Homo sapiens: one gene and its partner. The protein of the gene in region 1 purifies or fractionates together with the protein of each later gene. This does not show direct contact. Each region holds a gene or a part of one and is shown on either strand. Other genes may lie near its edges.

Evidence for each region.
Region 2: the proteins of EIF2D (region 1) and CKAP5 fractionate together in Homo sapiens (co-fractionation; one large-scale study listed by BioGRID). This does not show direct contact.

Annotation. Positions count from the first base shown.
Region 1 is NC_000001.11:206,602,260-206,606,077, forward strand, and holds part of EIF2D (eukaryotic translation initiation factor 2D), read right to left. Parts: intron 3,249-3,818; coding exon 3,141-3,248; intron 946-3,140; coding exon 692-945; intron 195-691; coding exon 77-194; intron 1-76. UniProt on the Homo sapiens protein: Translation initiation factor that is able to deliver tRNA to the P-site of the eukaryotic ribosome in a GTP-independent manner.
Region 2 is NC_000011.10:46,839,618-46,843,435, forward strand, and holds part of CKAP5 (cytoskeleton-associated protein 5), read right to left. Parts: intron 1-3,818. UniProt on the Homo sapiens protein: Binds to the plus end of microtubules and regulates microtubule dynamics and microtubule organization. Acts as a processive microtubule polymerase. Promotes cytoplasmic microtubule nucleation and elongation. Plays a major role in organizing spindle poles.

The DNA of each region.
Region 1 (3,818 bases):
CCATCCTGTCCTACTACCAAGGAGCACACGTGAGACCCCGGCCCCGGCCTCCAGCCCACATCAGTGCTTTCCATACCAGCAGGAGAACATGTGGCTGCCAAGGAAAGTGCTGGTGAGTAAAGGGAGGTCAGCCTTTTTGACTCGGCACTTCAAGGCATGTAAGAAGCATTGCTGTAACAGCTCATCCATTTGTTCTGCAGGGAAAAGACAAGAGCCACATCCTTCCTGAGGGATACAGAACACCTGGTACAAGAAAACGACCCCCAGCTTCATCCCTACCTCACCCACTTGGCTCTGAAAGGAACCCATTCCCAGGTACCAAAGCTCCCAGCCTCTCTTGAGCACTGAGCCTTTAAAGAGGGTTGACCCCAGAGAAGGAGTCAAGCCACAAAGTCCCACCAAGCTAGGAGTGTTCACCCAGAGAAGTTGAGCCAGAAGAAACCTTGGAGGGCTTTGTAGCTGAAGACAGGCAAATGCCAGGGCAGATTAGCTCCCAGGAAGACGTGACTTATGTGGAAAGGATTCAAAAACAAGATGTGAAAGGGCTGCTGCGCCACCCTCACAGAAAATAAGGACCTTCCCCTCCTCCCCCGGAAGCTTAAGGGCCATTCTAGTCAGCAGTGGAGTGGAGTTCGTCAGGCTCCTAAATTGAGAGGTGGGGAGATGGGCTCTTCTCCTCCTAGAGTTATACCTTGAAGCGTTTTGCTATCTGTGGAGTCTTGGTTCAGGCCCCTGGTGCTGGTGTCTTCTGGGGCTTCTGAGAGAGACTTGTCTTCACGTGCCTGGTGAACCTCCCCATTCTCCTCTTCCCCCTCCAGGGTCATGTGCCTCATGTCTCCCTGCAGGGTGGAGTCCATCTGGACAGACCCCTTCTCTTCACTGAGATCTGCTGAATCCAGGGCCAGTGGAGCAATGGAAGGTGGAGAGGACTTGTTTCCAGACCGCCTGGAAAAATCTCATGTCAGAAACATCAAGCAGCAGCTCCAATACTCTCCAGCCCTGGCCACAGAGGAGTCAGCAGTGAGGTCAGAGACAGCAGAGAGCCAACAGGCAGGAGTGGCCAGGAGGGGGCAGAGAGCCTGTGCCCTCATCTCAAGCGTACTTTCAATTCTGGGCCCCTAAAAGTTCCATGCCTCAGTTTCTTCATCTCTGAAATGGGGAGAATAAATCTTGTCTCCTCCCTATCCCAAAAGAATAATACTATTAATAGACATCCCAAGACTGAGAAAGATTAAAGAAAAAGGAGTTTAAGATAAACTCCCAAAAATGTTCCCTTCATCTGAGTTAATAACAAAACCAATTTGAATTAAATATGAACATTAAGATCGCGAATGCATCTGTAATATCTGTTTGGTGAAATGCAAACCCACGGCTCAGCATATGTAATAAAACACAAACACCTGGACTGCTCAAGGACTGCAAAATCAGTGGCTTCTGTGTTACATCAAATGCAGTCTAACGTGGAAAGCAGAGATTGCCATGGTTTTATGCCACTAAGCCTTAGGAAGACAGGAAAACAGGCGATGCCACATAGCAAAGCACACAAAGCAGTAAAAAACTTTATCTTAGCCAACATTATGCAAATCAAACTAAGTTTTAACTAATAGTTACGGCAAGGCTTCTCAGTGTTGTTCACAGTAAAGCCAAAGGGTATGTTTAGGCTATTCTGATCAGGTAAATACCATAAATATTTTTTTCAAGGTGCAGCGAGAGAACCAAAGCAGCTGCTGCTAAAACAACTTAGACAACCTGACCTTGATTGCTGTTGCCCAGACTGATAGTTAAACAACAAGGTGCTAGGAGAACATCAGTCATCAGCCCTCAAATATCTAAAAACAGGCAAAAATGAGCTTGTACCAGCAAAGGAGGACTTGGCAAGTACTTGTAAAATCAGTAAGTCCGGCGGGGAGCGGTGGCTCACGCCTGTAATCTCAGCACTTTGGGAGGCCTAGATGGGCAGATCACGTGAGGTTAGGAGTTCGAGACTAGCCTGGCCAACACGGTGAAACCCTGTCTCTACTAAAAACAAAAAAATTAGCCGGATGTTTTGGGCACAAGCCTGTAATCCCAGCTACTCGGGAGGCTGAGGTAGGAGAATCACTTGAACCGAGAGGCAGAGGTTGCAGTGAGCTGAGATTGCGCCACTGCACTCCAGCCTGGGCAACAAGAGCAAAACTCCATCTCAAAAAAAAAGGCTGGGCGCAGTGGCTCACACCTGTAATCCCAGCACTTTGGGAGGCCGAGGTGGGTGGATCACAAGGTCAATGGATCGAGACCATCCTGGCTAACATGGTGAAACCCCGTCTCTACTAAAAATACAAAAAATTAGCCGGGCGTGGTGGGAGGTACCTGTGGTCCCAGCTACTCAGGAGGCTGAGGCAGGAGAATGGAGTGAACCGGGAGGTGGAGCTTGCAGTGAGCTGAGATCACGCCACTGCACTCCAACCTGGGCGACAGAGCGAGACTCCATCTCAAAAAAAAAAAAAAAAAAAATTAATAATTCCAAGACTGGGCTGGAAAATATAAGAATGAATCTATACCAACAGGCCACAATACTTGGCTAAATGTGTGCTTTGAGAAAATCACTGCTTACTGTTTTGCTAAAATGACAAGAAAATAACCAGAAAATGAACAGGTACGCGTCTCAAGAATGCAACCTTTACAGTCAGAATGCGTTACTTTCATGAGGAGGAGGAGTCTGGAATGTGAAATCTGAATAACATAAAAGTAATCAGGTTATAATCCTGGAGTCTAAAGGTCTACCCTGCAGTGATTAGGATTCAGAAGCACTCATCATGGGGTCACATGATGTCTAAAATGTGCATCGCAGCTAGGGCCAGATTGACCAGGGCTATAAAAAAACGAGTATCACTGTACTGAGAGGCAGAGCAGATGATCCCTAAGGTCTTCCTTTGGGTCTAAGATTCTATAATTCACTTAGAAAATAAAGTTCTCTCTCATTACTTGTCCAAACAGGGGAAAAAAATATTTTCTTTATATTTGTAAGGAAATAAAAGTCTGGGCTTAGCAACTTGCTTAAAGACATGGCTAGGACCAAAACTCTCACTCCTGAATCACAGGCCCCATCCTCTCCCCAGCTGCCCCGGTTCTCTGTAAAACAGAAGAAACTCTGTACCCACCACAAGTGGTCCTGGTAAGTGTGGAGCACAGAGAAGCCCCTTCCCTTCAGGCCTGACGTGAGCATCTCAGCTGTGGACATGGCTGCAACTCCAATGGCTACAGGGGCTCTAAGAAGAAGGAAGCCAGAGACCAGGGTCATGGAAAATCTATGGGAAGGGCACATGTTAGGATCATCTTCTGACACATGTGGTAAAAATACCAAGGTTACCAATTCGAAGGTCTTGTATCATAAAACCAAACTCAGTCCACTCTCAGTTTTCTTCAGATTATGTACAAATATTACTTTCAAAAATCCCTTGACCAAATATTAAACTAAACACTAAACTTCTGTATTAGTAACTCCTCTATTGACTTTATCACTGCCTTTGTTTTATTCCTGCTGTGAATTAAATCTCCAGGTGGGTCTTGGAAGGATATTTAATGTTCCCTTTCATTAATTTCAAAAATATAAATTATCTCCTCTACCTTAAAGAAGTCATAGCCATCCCATAAGGAAGTTTAAAGGGGAGGCAATTCATATATCATAAATTAGGCTGAGGGATGCCATAGGGAAGAGAGAAGAGACACATAGTGGGGCCAACTAGAGAAGTTCCTTCTAAGTTGACTTTATAAGAGGGGTTGCTCAGTGTAACTATATATCTAAGAACTGGATGTTTCCAGGATATCAAAAACAACCA
Region 2 (3,818 bases), on another chromosome or scaffold:
ACTTTTTTAAAAGGGGCTGGGGGAATTCTACCCAGAAATTGCTCCTGAATTCTCCTACAGATCCCTACTTCACGTAGTACAATCATAGGTTAAGAGCAAAGGCCCTGGAGACAGACTGACTTGGGTTTGAATTCAGATTCTATCACTTAGTTCTATGATTTTGAGCATGTTGCACAGCCTTTTAAAGACTCAGTTTCCTCATCTGTAAAACATTGTGAGGATAAAAAAAGATAAAATGTAGCGGGACATGTTGGCTCATGCTTGTAACCCCAGCAATTTGGGAGGGTAAGGAGGGCAGATTGCTTAAGCCCAGGAGTTTGAGACCAGCCTGAGTAACATGGCAAAACCCCATCTCTACAAAAAATACAAAAATTAGCATGTGCCTGTAGGCCCACCTACTTGGGAGGCTGAGGTGGGAGGACAGATTGAGCCCAGGAGGTTGAGTCTACAGTGAGCCATGATCACACCACTACACTCCAGCCTGGGCGACAGAGTGAGATCCTGTCTCAAAAAAATTAATTAATTAATTAATTAAACAAAATGTGGGACCCAGTAGGCATTCAATACATGTTAGCTACTGCTAGTAAAAGTATCTGGGCATGTATTTTATTCAAGGACCAGAGCTGACCCCAGAGGGATTACAGAAACTATAATTTGCTACAGTAAATTGTTTGACAGATAAAACTGTCAAACTCCCTTAGGTCAGGGCCTTTGTCTTTTTCTGGTTCACCAGTGTATTCCCTGAATCTAGAACAATGTGTGACAGACATTAAGCATCAATCTCAATATCTGTTCAATGAATGAATAAGACCCCATTAAAGGAGCATAAGAGAGCCTGGCTTTACCTTAACATACTCATTCCCTGTCAAAATTTTTAACACTTATCCTAAGGCACTGTTAAAGTTGTTTATTATTTTTAATTGCTTACCAAAAACCTAGAACAGTGTTCATAATATTAAGGTACTCAAATTTATTGCAATTAAAACTTTGCTGCTGGAGAAGCTGAGAGCTGAACACATGGTGGTCCCTGGAGCGTGGTGTGCCCAGAGAGGGCATGGAAGCTCCATGCCTCTTCCCCTATACCTCACCCTATATAGCTCTTTGTATCCTTTGCAATATCCTTTATAATAAACTGGCTGGAAAATGTGTTTTCCTGAGTTCTATGAACAGGTCTAGCAAATTAATCAAACCCAAGGCAGGGAATGGGGGGCGGTATTAGGAATGCCCATTTTTATAGTCAGCCTACAGAAGCACAGGTAAAAAAAAACCTGGGGCTTCAGATTGGCATCTGAGTTGGGGGCAGTCTTCTGGGACTAAACCCTCAACCTGTGGGATCTGACACTACCTCCAGATAGAAAGTGTCAGAATTGGCCAGGTGAGGTGGCTCATGCCTGTAATCCCAGCACTTTGGGAGGCTGAGGCGGGCGGATCACTTGAGGCCAGGAGTTCAAGACCAGCCTGGCCAAAATGGAGAAACCCCGTCTCTACTAAAAATACAAAAAATTAGATGGGTGTTGTGGTGGGTTCTTGTAATCCCAGCTACTCGGGAGGCTGAGGAAGGAGAATCTCTTGAACCCGGGAGACAGAGGTTGCAGTCAGCCAAGACTGCGCCACCGCACTCCAGCCTGGGCAACAGAGCAATTCTGTCTCAAAAAAAAAAAAAAAGGTGTCAGAATTGAACTGAATTAGAGGACACACAGCTAGTGTCCACTGCTGAAGAACTACTTGCTTGGTGTGTGGGGAAAAAAATCTCACACATCTGAGGTCACAGAAGTTTTCTGTATTGTGAGAGTATAAGATAAACTTATTAAAGTTTCTTATTCTATATTCTCAGAATTGGCGTCAGAATTGGGATTTGCTAGAATGACTTGGCTCACAGACACATATGGTTTGGGAAGAAAAAGGATAAAAGGATAGGGATAAAGAACTTTGATTCTTAGGTGGCCAAGTGGTCACCCATGGTAAAGAGCTGAAGCTGTGCTGTCATCAATTACTAAAGGTAAAAGTTATCCATGGAATCCAGAGATGGATCCAACTGCCTGGGAGTTGGTTCACAGGATGCACAAGGAAATGCAAACTAGTATTAAAAAAGTGATATGCTGGCTCGGCACGGTGGCTCACGCCTGTAATCCCAGCACTTTGGGAGGCCAAGGCAGGAGGATCACGAGGTTAGGAGATTGAGACCATCTGGCTAACAGTGAAACTCCATCTCTACTAAAAATACAAAAAATTTAGGCGGGTGCTGTGGCTCACGCCTGTAATCCCAGCTACTCAGGAGGCTGAGGCAGGAGAATCACTTGAGCCTGGGAGGCAGAGGTTGCAGTGAGCCGAGATCGTGCCATTGCACTCCAGCCCTGGAGAAAGAGTAAGACTTTGGTTCAAAAAAAAAAAAAAAAAAAAAGCGAAATGTTAAATCCCTTGGTTATTGTTATCTGTAACAGCTAAAATGAAATTAAAAGAAAGTGGTGGGTTGGACCTTCCCGCTAGACCAAGCTCAGCTTTCAGTGAATGTGAGAGCTTAGGCCACTAACCTCAAAGCTGTCCCTCAAGGGAAAAATGTATGCCGGGACAACAGAAAGTGCTTCTAAGACCTCTGGTAACAAAGAAGGTGGTCTGCAAAAATCAAAGAACTATTGAAACCAGGGGGTACAATGTGAAGGAATTGTTTCACTTTGTACATTAGTATCATAAGCTTCCTGAAGGGGACAGTCTGATTCCATAAATGCCAAGTGGAACACCCCAGATCCAGATAGAGCCACTGATATACTTCATATGCAAGCCATGTGAAACTGGCTTTATGATGACTAGGACATTTACCCTCTGAATATGCCCACTACCCAGTCATGGTAAATGCTGTGGTTAAGGGTGACCCCTTAATGTGGATAACCTTACTGTTGCAAAATCAAAAGACAGTTCGAGAAGCCTTATCAAATGTGCTGTCTCAGTTTCCTCTCGTGGGTCTTACAGATGCTAATAAAACCATTAGGTTAAGAGAATGGTGAGACAGAGGGCAAATGGATTCAACCCGGAAGGTGGAAATTTTTAAATGGTTATTAAGAAGTAAGGTAGGCCGGGCGCGGTGGCTCACGCCTGTAATCCCAGCACTTTGGGAGGCCGAGGCGGGCGGATCACGAGGTCAGGAGATCGAGACCATCCTGGCTAACAAGGTGAAACCCCATCTCTACTGAAAATACAGAAAATTAGCCGGGCTTGGTAGCGGGCGCCTGTAGTCCCAGCTACTTGGGAGGCTGAGGCAGGAGAATGGCGTGAACCTGGGAGGCGGAGCTTGCAGTGAGCCGAGATCGCGCCACCGCACTCCAGCCTGGGTGACAGAGCAAGACTCCGTCTCAAAAAAAAAAAAAAAAAAAAAAAAAGAAGTAAGGTAGCAGGGTGTGGTGGCTCATGCCTATAATCCCAGCACTTTGGGAGGCCAAGACAGGATGATCACTTGAGCCCAGGAGTTCAAGACTAGCCTGGGAGCCAAAGGGAGACCCTGCTGGTCTCCCACCATTAAGGGGTTCCAAACAAGTTTGCTATATTTACCCCAGTTTGGAGAAATTGTAAGTCAGGAGGCAGATTACAATGAGAAATCTGATCTGAAATTGTGGAAACAATAGGTAGATGAGTCAAGATAAAGACTGGCAAATGGGCAAGGGTCTCTTGGCTCAACCACCTGCTGGGGACCCCAAGCCTTCTGTATATAAGTAGGTAAAATGGTCAGGGAGTGGCAAAAAGAAATTCCTGGGACTCCTTCATATGGAAGCCCCAGGTACAGTAGTACCAAGAGCCATTGGTGAAGCCCCGAACAGGGCTACAGT